Regions from separate parts of the Homo sapiens genome. Here all the other regions are reported to be linked to region 3. Evidence: microRNA targets listed by miRTarBase, many of them from high-throughput screens and not tested one by one. Region 3 holds a microRNA gene; each other region holds the end of a gene's coding sequence.

Region 1 (3,000 bases), not on the chromosome of region 3:
GTTTGAATTACACACAAAAATGTTCCCTGCAGCAGGTCATAAACTCTGTGAACTAATGAAGCTGACAAACAGAGCTGGAGTACGTTTCCCCTCACCCTTCCTTTCCTCCTAGCTCAGCAAGGGGTGCTCAGGTTCAGGATGTTGTTTGTTGATTCAGGCTCAACCAGGCTCCGCAAGAAAACCTTATCAGGAGATTTTATTTTCATGAACAGGTGCCAGTCTTCCCGCCAGCCACGTCCAGCTGGCGTCAATAAGCATCTTTGGGGATGTCCTGCCTCCTCCAGGACCAGCCATGAGTGGCTCTTATGGCCAAAGGCGGTACTGCAGGCCAAGCAAACGGCTCTGGGCTGGAATAGCCCTACCTGAGTGCCCTGTTTGACTCCGCCACTATCTGCCATGTGAGTTGGGCAAATTGTTGACCACCTCTGAGCCTTGAAAAAGTAGGAGGTTACTTTGTTAGAGCAAAATAATAAAATTTAATTTTAAAAAAGAAAACGTAGGAGGTTGGTTTGGATGAGCTAGTCTCTTCCGGTTGAAAAGTCTGACTCGGTGAGCATCCTGACGACTCCATTTCCTTCTGGCTCCCCACCCAGTCTTACACTTGGCTGCCATCAATACCACATGCTCTGAAGGGAGAGTGCTTGCATGGACTTTGCCAAATCCTGTCTGCTCCATCTCAGTTGAATGGAAAAGGAGGGAGGTGGGGCTGGTAGATAGGTGCTTTTGGTGCTAGTATCCACCAGGTTTTGTGTGCATCCCGTAATGAGCCCACTTCCTGAAAACATTTAAAGAAAAAAGATATCAGCTGGAGATGGCAGTGCGCACATGTAATCCCAGCTACTCGGGAGGTTGAGGTGGGAGGATCACTCAAACCTGGGAGTTTGAGGCCAGCCTGGGCAACACAGCAAGACCCTGTCTTTTTTTTAAAAAAAAAAAAAAAAAAAAGGCTGGGTGTGGTGGCTCACGCCTGTAATCCCAGCACTTTGAGAGGCCAAGATGGGTGGGTCACTAGAGGTCAGGAGTTCAAGACCAGCCTGGCCAACATGGCAAAACCCCAGCTCTACTAAAAATACAAAAATTAGCCAGGCGTGGTAGCAGTCGCCTGTAATCCCAGCTACTTGGGAGGCTGAGGCAGGAAATTTGCTTGAACTGGAGAGGAAGAGGTTGTGGTGAGCTGGGATCACGCCACTGCACTACAGCCTGGGTGATGGAATGAGACTCGTCTCAAAAAACAAACAAACAAAAAAAACACTTTGGGAGGTCAGAGCAGGAGGATCGCTTGAGACCAGGACTTCAAGACCAGCCTGGGCAACATAGAGACCCTGTCTCTACAGAAAAATTAAGGAAAGGGAAAAAAAAAAAGCCAAGTGTGGTGGATCATGCCTGTAATCCCAACACTTTGGAAGGCCAAGATGGGAGAATCACTTGAGAGGCCACCCTGGGCCACATAAGGAGACCTCCATCTCTACAAAAAATTTAAAACTTAGCTGGACATGGTGGCACAGGCCTGTAGTCCAAGCCACTCAGGAGGCAGAGGTGGGAGGATCCCTTGAGCCAAGAAGCTCAAGGTTGCAGTAAGCTGTGATCACACCACTGCACTCCAGCCTGGGTGACAGAGACCTTGTCCCCCCTTCCCAAAAAAAAAAAAGGTATCAATGAATGTTCTGCATAGGAAACTTTCATCTCACCTGCTCCTAGGCAAGAATAGCAATCATCTCTGGGCAGAATTCCTTCAATAAATATTTACTGAGTATCTACTGTGTGCCAGAGACTGGGCAGAGGTAAGACCTACCAAGGGCTGAGAATTCCACCCCAAGGAGGGCCCCTCCCTGAGGCCTTAAGAAGGGAGAAGACTGGCTGGGTGCGGTGGCTCATGCCTGTAATCCCAGCACTTTGGGAGGCTGAGACAGGTGGATCACGAGGTCAAGATATCGAGACCATCCTGGCCAACAAGGTGAAACCCCATCTCTGCTAAAAATACAAAAATTAGGCCGGGCGCAGTGGCTCACGCCTGTAATCCCAGCACTTTGGGAGGCCAAGGCGGGTGGATCACGAGGTCAGGAGATCGAGACCATCCTGGCTAACACGGTGAAACCTCGTCTCTATTAAAAATACAAACATTAGCCGGGCGTCGTGGCGGGTGCCTGTAGTCCCAGCTATTCAGGAGGCTGAGGCAGGAGAATGGCGTGAACCTGGGAGGCGGAGCTTCCAGTGAGCTGAGATCGCACCACTGCACTCCAACCCGGGTGACAGAGCGAGACACTGTCTCAGAAAAAAAATACAAAAATTAGCTGGGTGCAGTGGTGCGTGCCTGTAATCCCAGCTACTCGGGAGGCTGAGGCAGGAGAATCACTTGAATCTGAGGCGGAGGTTGTAGTGAGCCGAGATCGCACCACTGTACTCCAGCCTGGCGACAGAGCGAGACTCCATCTCAAAAAGAAAAAAAGGGAGAAGACCAATGAGGGAAGATGGGGTGGCCCATCTGATTCAGCAATCCCCATCTAGCTGATTGCCTGCGAACCTCTAGAGAAGGTCTGGGGCAGTTCCTGGGCAGGGAGGGATGGAGCTTACTTCCATCCTCCCTGTTTCTGGGCTCCTATTTGCTGCTCTGTCCAGCAAGAGGCAGAGAAACCCCTTGGGCACCTAGGGGTAAGATGCACTTCCCAGGCTGCAGAGGCTCCCAAGAGAAGCCAAAGGGCTTTGGTGAGGGTCCTGGGGCCTAGGTACCCAGACTAAGTTAGAAACTCCTGCCTCAGAGGGTGTACATAGGGCAGGGGCTGACCACAAGGACCTGAAACCTCAGAGGTGAGGCCTGCTTCCAATGGGGCTGCAGCTGGCTGGAGTGTGACGGCCACTCTGCCTTCATCCGGGCCCAGGGCTTAAGATAATGGTCCTTGCCTTTGTCAGCCTAAATAACAGAGAGGCTCTCTCAAAGAAAATGATATCTATTTGGGCATAGGGCATTGCAATGGTAGTATCCATGCCATAGTAAACTATATG
Region 2 (3,348 bases), not on the chromosome of region 3:
TACCCTTTCCAGTCACCAGAGGAAACACACCAGAGCAGCACAGGCTGAACGTAGCCCGCCTGCACGGTCTTCCTCTCAGGACACAAAGTTGAGATTACAGAAGCTAAAACCAAGTGAAGAGATGCCCCTCGAAGACTGCAAAGAAGCTTGCAGCCAGAGCTCCAGGCTCACTGGACTCCAGGACATAAGCATTGGGAAAAAGTGCCACAAATGCAGCATATGTGGGAAAACTTTTAACAAGAGTTCACAACTCATTAGCCACAAGAGATTTCATACTCGAGAGAGGCCCTTCAAATGCAGCAAGTGTGGAAAGACCTTCAGGTGGTCTTCGAACCTGGCTCGGCATATGAAAAACCATATTAGAGATTAGCCTGGGACCTGACAGTGACAGTGGGGGTGGGTTCTCAGTCCCCTGCTAGAGAACCCTTAATTATAGGCATTGTGGAGTAACTTTGATAAAGGGCCCAGCCCTTTCTGTTTTGGAAGCTAGTGACAGAATCCCAAGGATTTGAAAGCTCGGGGAGTCCCCAGCCTGCCTGCTAGGATGTGACGCTGGGGAAGTGCAGCACCATGTCCTTTGGAGCCCTTCTGGAGACTCCGGCCCCTAGGAGTGGCCTCTGCACCATAGCCTGCGGCTCCCCTATTCAGGTCTCCTTCCACAACTCTGAAGAGAGAGACCACTGCCCTTTGTGGTTGGACAGAATATCTGTGGCATCATGGGCTATGGCTGCTGGAAAGGGGCCAGTGGGATCCTAGATTTGTCTTCAAGTTTGGCCTGTGGCCATGCCTATTCTGTTGACTTTAAAAGCAGCAGCATCAAGAACTCCTAGCCTTCCCAAATGCCCCCTGGGGAGTTCTGGCTGGGGCTTCAGCCTTCCTGGCTGGCTTTTGGATATCTGCTAGGGGGTTAGAGTGGTCTCAGCGGCAGGTGGAGGAGAGCAGGATGCTGGGCTCAAGCGCTTGGCGTGTGGATCTCTACCAGTACCCTGTTGCCATCCCCATCCCACAGGCCTGCATAGGCAGCAGCGGTCCATCTGTTTAACAGAAATGTGCTGAGCACTCCCATACACCAGGCGCTGGTGTGTTTGCCAGAGACCCAGCAGGGACCAGAACAGATGAAAATCCTGCCATCTTGGATCTTTACAGATGACAAACAAATGGGATACGCAGTATTCTGGATGGTGATGTGTGTAGTGGACAAAGTGAATCAGAGAAGAGCAGAGGGAGTGCTGGATTGGGAGATCAGTCGTGATTTTAGATAGTCTGGTCAGGGAGGGCCTCAACTGAGAAGGTGAAATGTGAGCAAAGACGTGAAGGAAGCCAGGGAGGTAGCAGGTAGCTCTCTAGGGAGAGTTGCAGGCAGAGGAGATTGGGTCTTGACTGGTGTCCTCAGGAAGGAAGCCCCTGGGATGGAGTGCAGGGAGCCAGCTGGAAGGGAAGGAGAGGGGCCAGGGAGGCCACAGGCCCGGCCATATGAGCATCATGGGTCATTACGGGGGCTTGAGCTGGCTCAGAGGGAGGCAGGGAGCTTTTGGACAATTTTGAGTTGAGGAGTGATGTGGTTTGAATCTGAATTATATTTTATAAGGGTTAACCACAGATCCAAGGACTCAGTAAAAGGGTGAAAGGCTTCTCATGCAGTTAGCCTTGCTGCCAGTTCCCATAAATCAGACTCCTCCCCACTCCGTTTCTGAATTTTCTATAGGATCCTCGGCCTCAGCAGATATAAACGCTTACCATTGTTGTGTTCATGTCTCTAGCCCCTGCACACTGCAGGCCCCTCTCAGCTTCACATACCCCTCTCCATGTATGAGATCTGGTGCTAGCAATCAGATTCAACCCGAAGGAACAAGTGCATGTGCCTGCTGCTCTCAGGAGAAAAGGCAGCCTGTTCTGGGAGGAGCTCCCTCACTGGCCCACCCACTTGTGTTGAAGCAAAAAGCAAGAATCAATTACTTAAAGGCAAAGGAGTGATATTGCTAAAGCATGTGAGTAATCATTGCTTCTGATTATTGAAGAGGTCAGATTATGAATGAAAGGATAAAATGTTTTAATAGTAGAGCAGTGTCCTGACTATAGGGGCCCGTTCATGGAGCTGGTCATTTCTTGAAATGAGAAGAAACCAACCTGGAAGATGTCTTTTTCAGTAGAGTATGGAATAATCTTACCTGCTCTGGATTGCCATGAGCAGGTGAAAATGAAGGCTCTGATATTGTGTGGTGGTGTCACAGGATGGTGGGGGCGGGGCAGAAGTCTCCTGTTGGTGTTCTGATGCCTGTTCAGCTTTGTCCTCAGGAAGGTTTGGTCATCTTGGTTCTGCCATCCTCTTGCCTTCCTACGGCAGCAGCTGTTCATGGCACTGAAGATGTCCCTTCACTGTCCCAAAACTGGCACTAGAAGTGGCTGGGCAGGGGGGCCAGAGTCATAGGAAGGGTCTTGGAGTCATCAGATCTGGGTTCCAGGCATGGTGTGCCTTTTCTTGGCAGGATTGATCTTGAGCAAGTCAATGAACCTCTGCATCAATTTCCTTATGTGTGAAGTTAGAGTGCTTGGCTGTGCTACCTGATTCCTGAGATTGGTGAAAGAGGGCTTGGTTTACCAAGGCTCTCCATCAGGTGGTTGACCTCTAGGACCAGGGCCCTCTCAGAGGTGCAGCTTCCATGTCAGTTGGTGTTGTAACCATGGAAAAGTCCCTTTCCAATCAAACTTTTAGCACCCCTTTCCCCCCATCTCTGCTCCCTTTGCCACAGGATACCTTGTAAAGTTCCTGCCCCAGTATAGGGATATTTTTACTGTCTTTTTTATTTTTTGAGACAGGGTTGCCCAGGGTGGAGTGCAGTGGCAGGATCACAGCTTACTGCAGCCTTGACCTCCCAGGCTCAGGTCCCATCTGAGCCTCCCGAGTAGCTGGGGCTACAGGTGTGTGCCACCCTGCCAGCTAATTTTTTATATTTTTTTGTAGAGACAAAACTTTTATTTTTTTTTCCCATGTTGCTCATGCTGGTCTCAAACTCCTGGGCTCAAGCAATCCACCCACCTCTGCCTCCCAAAGTGCTGGGATTACAGGCGTGAGCCACTGTGCCTGACCTGTCATTTTTATAGAATGAAATGTGCTTATTTCTAAACATTCTAATCAAATTTTAAAATGTGCAAAGAATGAAGTGAAAAACTGAATTTTTTTTTTTTTTTGATACGGAGTCTCACTCTGTTACCCAGGCTAGAGTGCAGTGGCGCGATCTCCGCTCACTGCAAGCTCTGCCTCCTGGGCTCACACCATTCTCCTGCCTCAGCCTCCTCAGTAGCTGGGACTACAAGTGCCTGCCACCACGCCTGGGTTATTTTTTATAT
Region 3 (3,348 bases):
CCAGCAAGTAGAAACTAGGTGTTTTTTTTTTTTTTGTAGTTCTTATTATCAGGCATATGTGCATTTGAATTTTGTCTTCATAGCATTTCCTGGTTCTATTTCTCATTTTTTAAAACACACGTGATTTCATCTAGATTTATCACCTTCACAGGGTCACAGAGAAGGGTAGGAAGAAGGGAGGCCCTGGTTTGGGTCTTGTAGGACCATGGACAAGAGTGCGGAGGGACAACAGGGGGTTGTAAGACATTATTAAGACCTTATTCTGCCTCTCCCAAGAGGCTCAGTTCAGCCGTTTTTCTGCAGTTGCGGTTCTGGGTTATAAACCTTGTAGACTCTTCCCTTCAGGCCAGGGCGGCAACTATGCAAATTCAAGTGGGGGCCTCCCCACTTAAACCCAGGGCTCTCCTCCACAGTGAGTCTCCTTCACCACCCAGCTGGGATCTCAGTGCTTTCTTTTCTGTCCTCCTCCAGGATGGGGTCAACCGTCATCCTTTCCCTCGTCCTGGCTGTTCTCCAAGGTCAGTCCTGCCCAGGGTTTGAGGTCACAGAGAAGAATGGGCAGAAGGGAGCCCCTGATGCAAATTTTGTGTCTCCCACACAGGTGTCTTTGCCGAGGTGCAGCTGTTGCAGTCTGCAGCAGAGGTGAAAAGACCCGGGGAGTCTCTGAGGATCTCCTGTAAGACTTCTGGATACAGCTTTACCAGCTACTGGATCCACTGGGTGCGCCAGATGCCCGGGAAAGAACTGGAGTGGATGGGGAGCATCTATCCTGGGAACTCTGATACCAGATACAGCCCATCCTTCCAAGGCCACGTCACCATCTCAGCCGACAGCTCCAGCAGCACCGCCTACCTGCAGTGGAGCAGCCTGAAGGCCTCGGACGCCGCCATGTATTATTGTGTGAGAGGGACCATCTAAAACCTTCCGCGGTGCAGGTGCAGAGTGAGCTGCCAGACACACCCTCCCCAGGGGCCTCTCTATTCATCCGGGGAGGAAACACTGGCTGTTTGTGTCCTCAGGAGCAAAAACCAGAGAACAACATGGGAGCGTTCCTAACCCCTAAGGCAACTGGATGGGAGACCTGACCCATCCAGTTCTCTGAGGGGGCTCTTGTGTGTTCTACAAGGTTGTTCATGGTGTATATTACATGGTTAACATCAAAAGGCTGCCTAATAGGCACCTCTTCAATATAATAGTCTTTTAATTAGTGAAAATTTTACACAGTTCATCATTGCTTGCTTGCCTTCCTCCCTTCTGTCCGCTCTTACTCCCTCCTTCTTTTATTTTCTACTTACTTTTCCAAAATCATTTAACCCCTTTTTGTACCATTAATAAGTTATCTTGTTTTTGTTGTTGTTTTCCTTTTAACAATATGCACTGAATAATTCATCTTTGTGCCAATTCGTAAATATTTTGATATAACAAAGACTTCTGTCATAAATAGATTTCCTGTGAGTAATCTTGCAAATATTTTAGAACCTGTTTGGTTAAGAATAAATTAAAATAAATAGACAAATTTTTAAAGACATACAACCTATCAAAACTGAACCACCAAGAAATAAAAAATCTGGGCTGGGCGTGGTTGCTCATATGTGTATTCTCAGCACTTTGGGAGACCGATGCGGGTGGATCACCTCAGGTCAGGAGTTCAAGATCAGCCTGGCCAACATGGCAAAACCCCGTCTCTACTAAAAATACACAGATTAGCTGGGTGTGGTGGTGTTCACCCGCAGTCCCATAGTCCCGGCTACTCGGGAGGCTGAGGTAGGAGAATGACTTGAACCTGGGAGGCAGAGGTTGCAGAAAGCCAAAATCGAGCCACTGCACTCCAGACTGAGCAACAGAGTGAGACTCCAATTAAAAAAAATCTGAACAGACCAATGAGTAAAGAGATCGAGTCAGTGATTTTTCCAACATCTCGAATCAAAGTCCAGAACTTCATGGCTTCACTACTGAATTTTATCAAAAATTAAAAAAAACCTAGAATCTCTACTCAAATTTCCAACAAAATAAAGAGAAAGAAATATATCCAAGCTTATTTTGGAAGGCCCTATTTCCAAAGCAAGGAAAAGACACTACAAGTAAATAAAACTACAGGCCAATATCCCTGATTATCATAGTTTCAAAAACTCTCAAGAGTGATGAGATGACAAACAAAATTAAACAGCAGATTAAGAATAGAATTCACCATTATCTGTGTCTCCCATACCCAGAGAGGCTGCTGCTTGCCCTGCACAAGGATACTCTGAGCAGAAACCTACCTGGCCCAGCCCTCACCTTGCTTTATGCAGCCATCTGCCCTGGCAGCTTAACACAAAGGACAGCATCTTTTGGGAGATACATGGCCACACCCACTGCCTGAGAATCCACAGTAGCCCCTATTCCTGGGCAACATAAGCCAAGCAAAAACCCCACTGTTAATACTGTAGCTGGTGCTCTTTGGAAAGCACCATCTCCAAGCAGGAAGCCAATAAACAGTCCATCACAGTATCTCCTGGTAGACTATCACTGCACCCAGAAAGGAGAAAATGACTGTGTGATCTCAGCTATGACCAGTGCCTGCACCACTCTGGATGACCAGGAGGTCCTGAGTCTGTCCATGTGAACAGTTCATTACCGCTATAACCAGCATTCAAGAAAGCCAGTACACAAAGGCTATCAATATCTAAGGAATTTCAGTCTCCATCACTCCCCTGCTGCTTCCATCAGACCTGGTTCACTGCTCACTGCTGAAAAATTGAGGACACATCACACCACCGGATCCCTCACATACATTCCCCAACACCAGCCTGAAGTGTGTCAACTTCACTGGGCGGCTAGACCTAGAGAAGCAACAACACTCACAGTAGTATGGCTCCCAGGTTCTCCTGCTCCTAGGGGAAGGGAGTGCACCACATTGAGGGAACACCCTGTGGGACAGGAGAATCTGGATGGCAGGCCTTGAACATCAATCAGATCCCTCCATTGGTGGGAAACTTCTTTTAGTAGAGGCAGTTACAGTGCTGAGCTCAGCAGAGAAAGTCTTCAGCTCTGTCTCAACAGTCAGATATCCCTGGTGCATGTGAAAAACTTGAAGAAGAGGAAGTCTTTCCCCCTTGTACACCACTGCAGGCACACTTGGGGTCTCTCCCATAAGAGCTCAGTACGGGTGCAACTATAGACAGCATTTCTGGAACACATCATGTTGACTGCATCCCCCAGAAAGAGCACTCTCCAGGTTCAGGTTTTGGCCAGACACAGAGTCACAATTCCTCTGTATTTAACACTTCAACTTTTGTACAGAGGAAAAGACATGCCTGTCTGATCTGAATAGCTGGAATCCTGGGATACGGGAGTGTCTTAGAGGTG

The links. Region 3 holds the annotated microRNA hsa-miR-5195-3p (AUCCAGUUCUCUGAGGGGGCU, at 1,089-1,109, shown strand). A microRNA usually pairs through its seed, bases 2 to 8, with sites in the 3' UTR of a target mRNA and lowers its output. Matches are read on the target gene's strand: a 7mer-m8 pairs with bases 2 to 8, a 7mer-A1 pairs with bases 2 to 7 and ends in A, and an 8mer does both.
Region 1: the mRNA of SLC16A5 is a reported target of hsa-miR-5195-3p. The part of its 3' UTR that is shown has no 7-base or 8-base seed match.
Region 2: miRTarBase lists ZNF445 as a target of hsa-miR-5195-3p. The part of its 3' UTR that is shown has no 7-base or 8-base seed match.

Annotation. Positions count from the first base shown.
Region 1 is chr17:75,105,668-75,108,667 of GRCh38, forward strand. It overlaps SLC16A5 (solute carrier family 16 member 5), which reads left to right. Exons shown (of 7, transcript NM_004695.4): 7 at 213-495. The coding sequence ends at 366. Among named protein-coding and RNA genes, the nearest start is that of ARMC7, 2.8 kb to the right of the region's middle. RefSeq lists an enhancer at 1-23.
Region 2 is chr3:44,443,597-44,446,944 of GRCh38, reverse strand. It overlaps ZNF445 (zinc finger protein 445), which reads left to right. Exons shown (of 8, transcript NM_181489.6): 8 at 1-3,348. The coding sequence ends at 370. Among named protein-coding and RNA genes, the nearest start is that of LINC01988, 17 kb to the right of the region's middle.
Region 3 is chr14:106,848,671-106,852,018 of GRCh38, reverse strand. MIR5195 (microRNA 5195) reads left to right here and starts at 1,020; the gene lies at 1,020-1,134. The region is part of intron 1 of LOC124903399 (a long non-coding RNA gene); the gene reads right to left. It also overlaps IGH and the pseudogene IGHV5-78.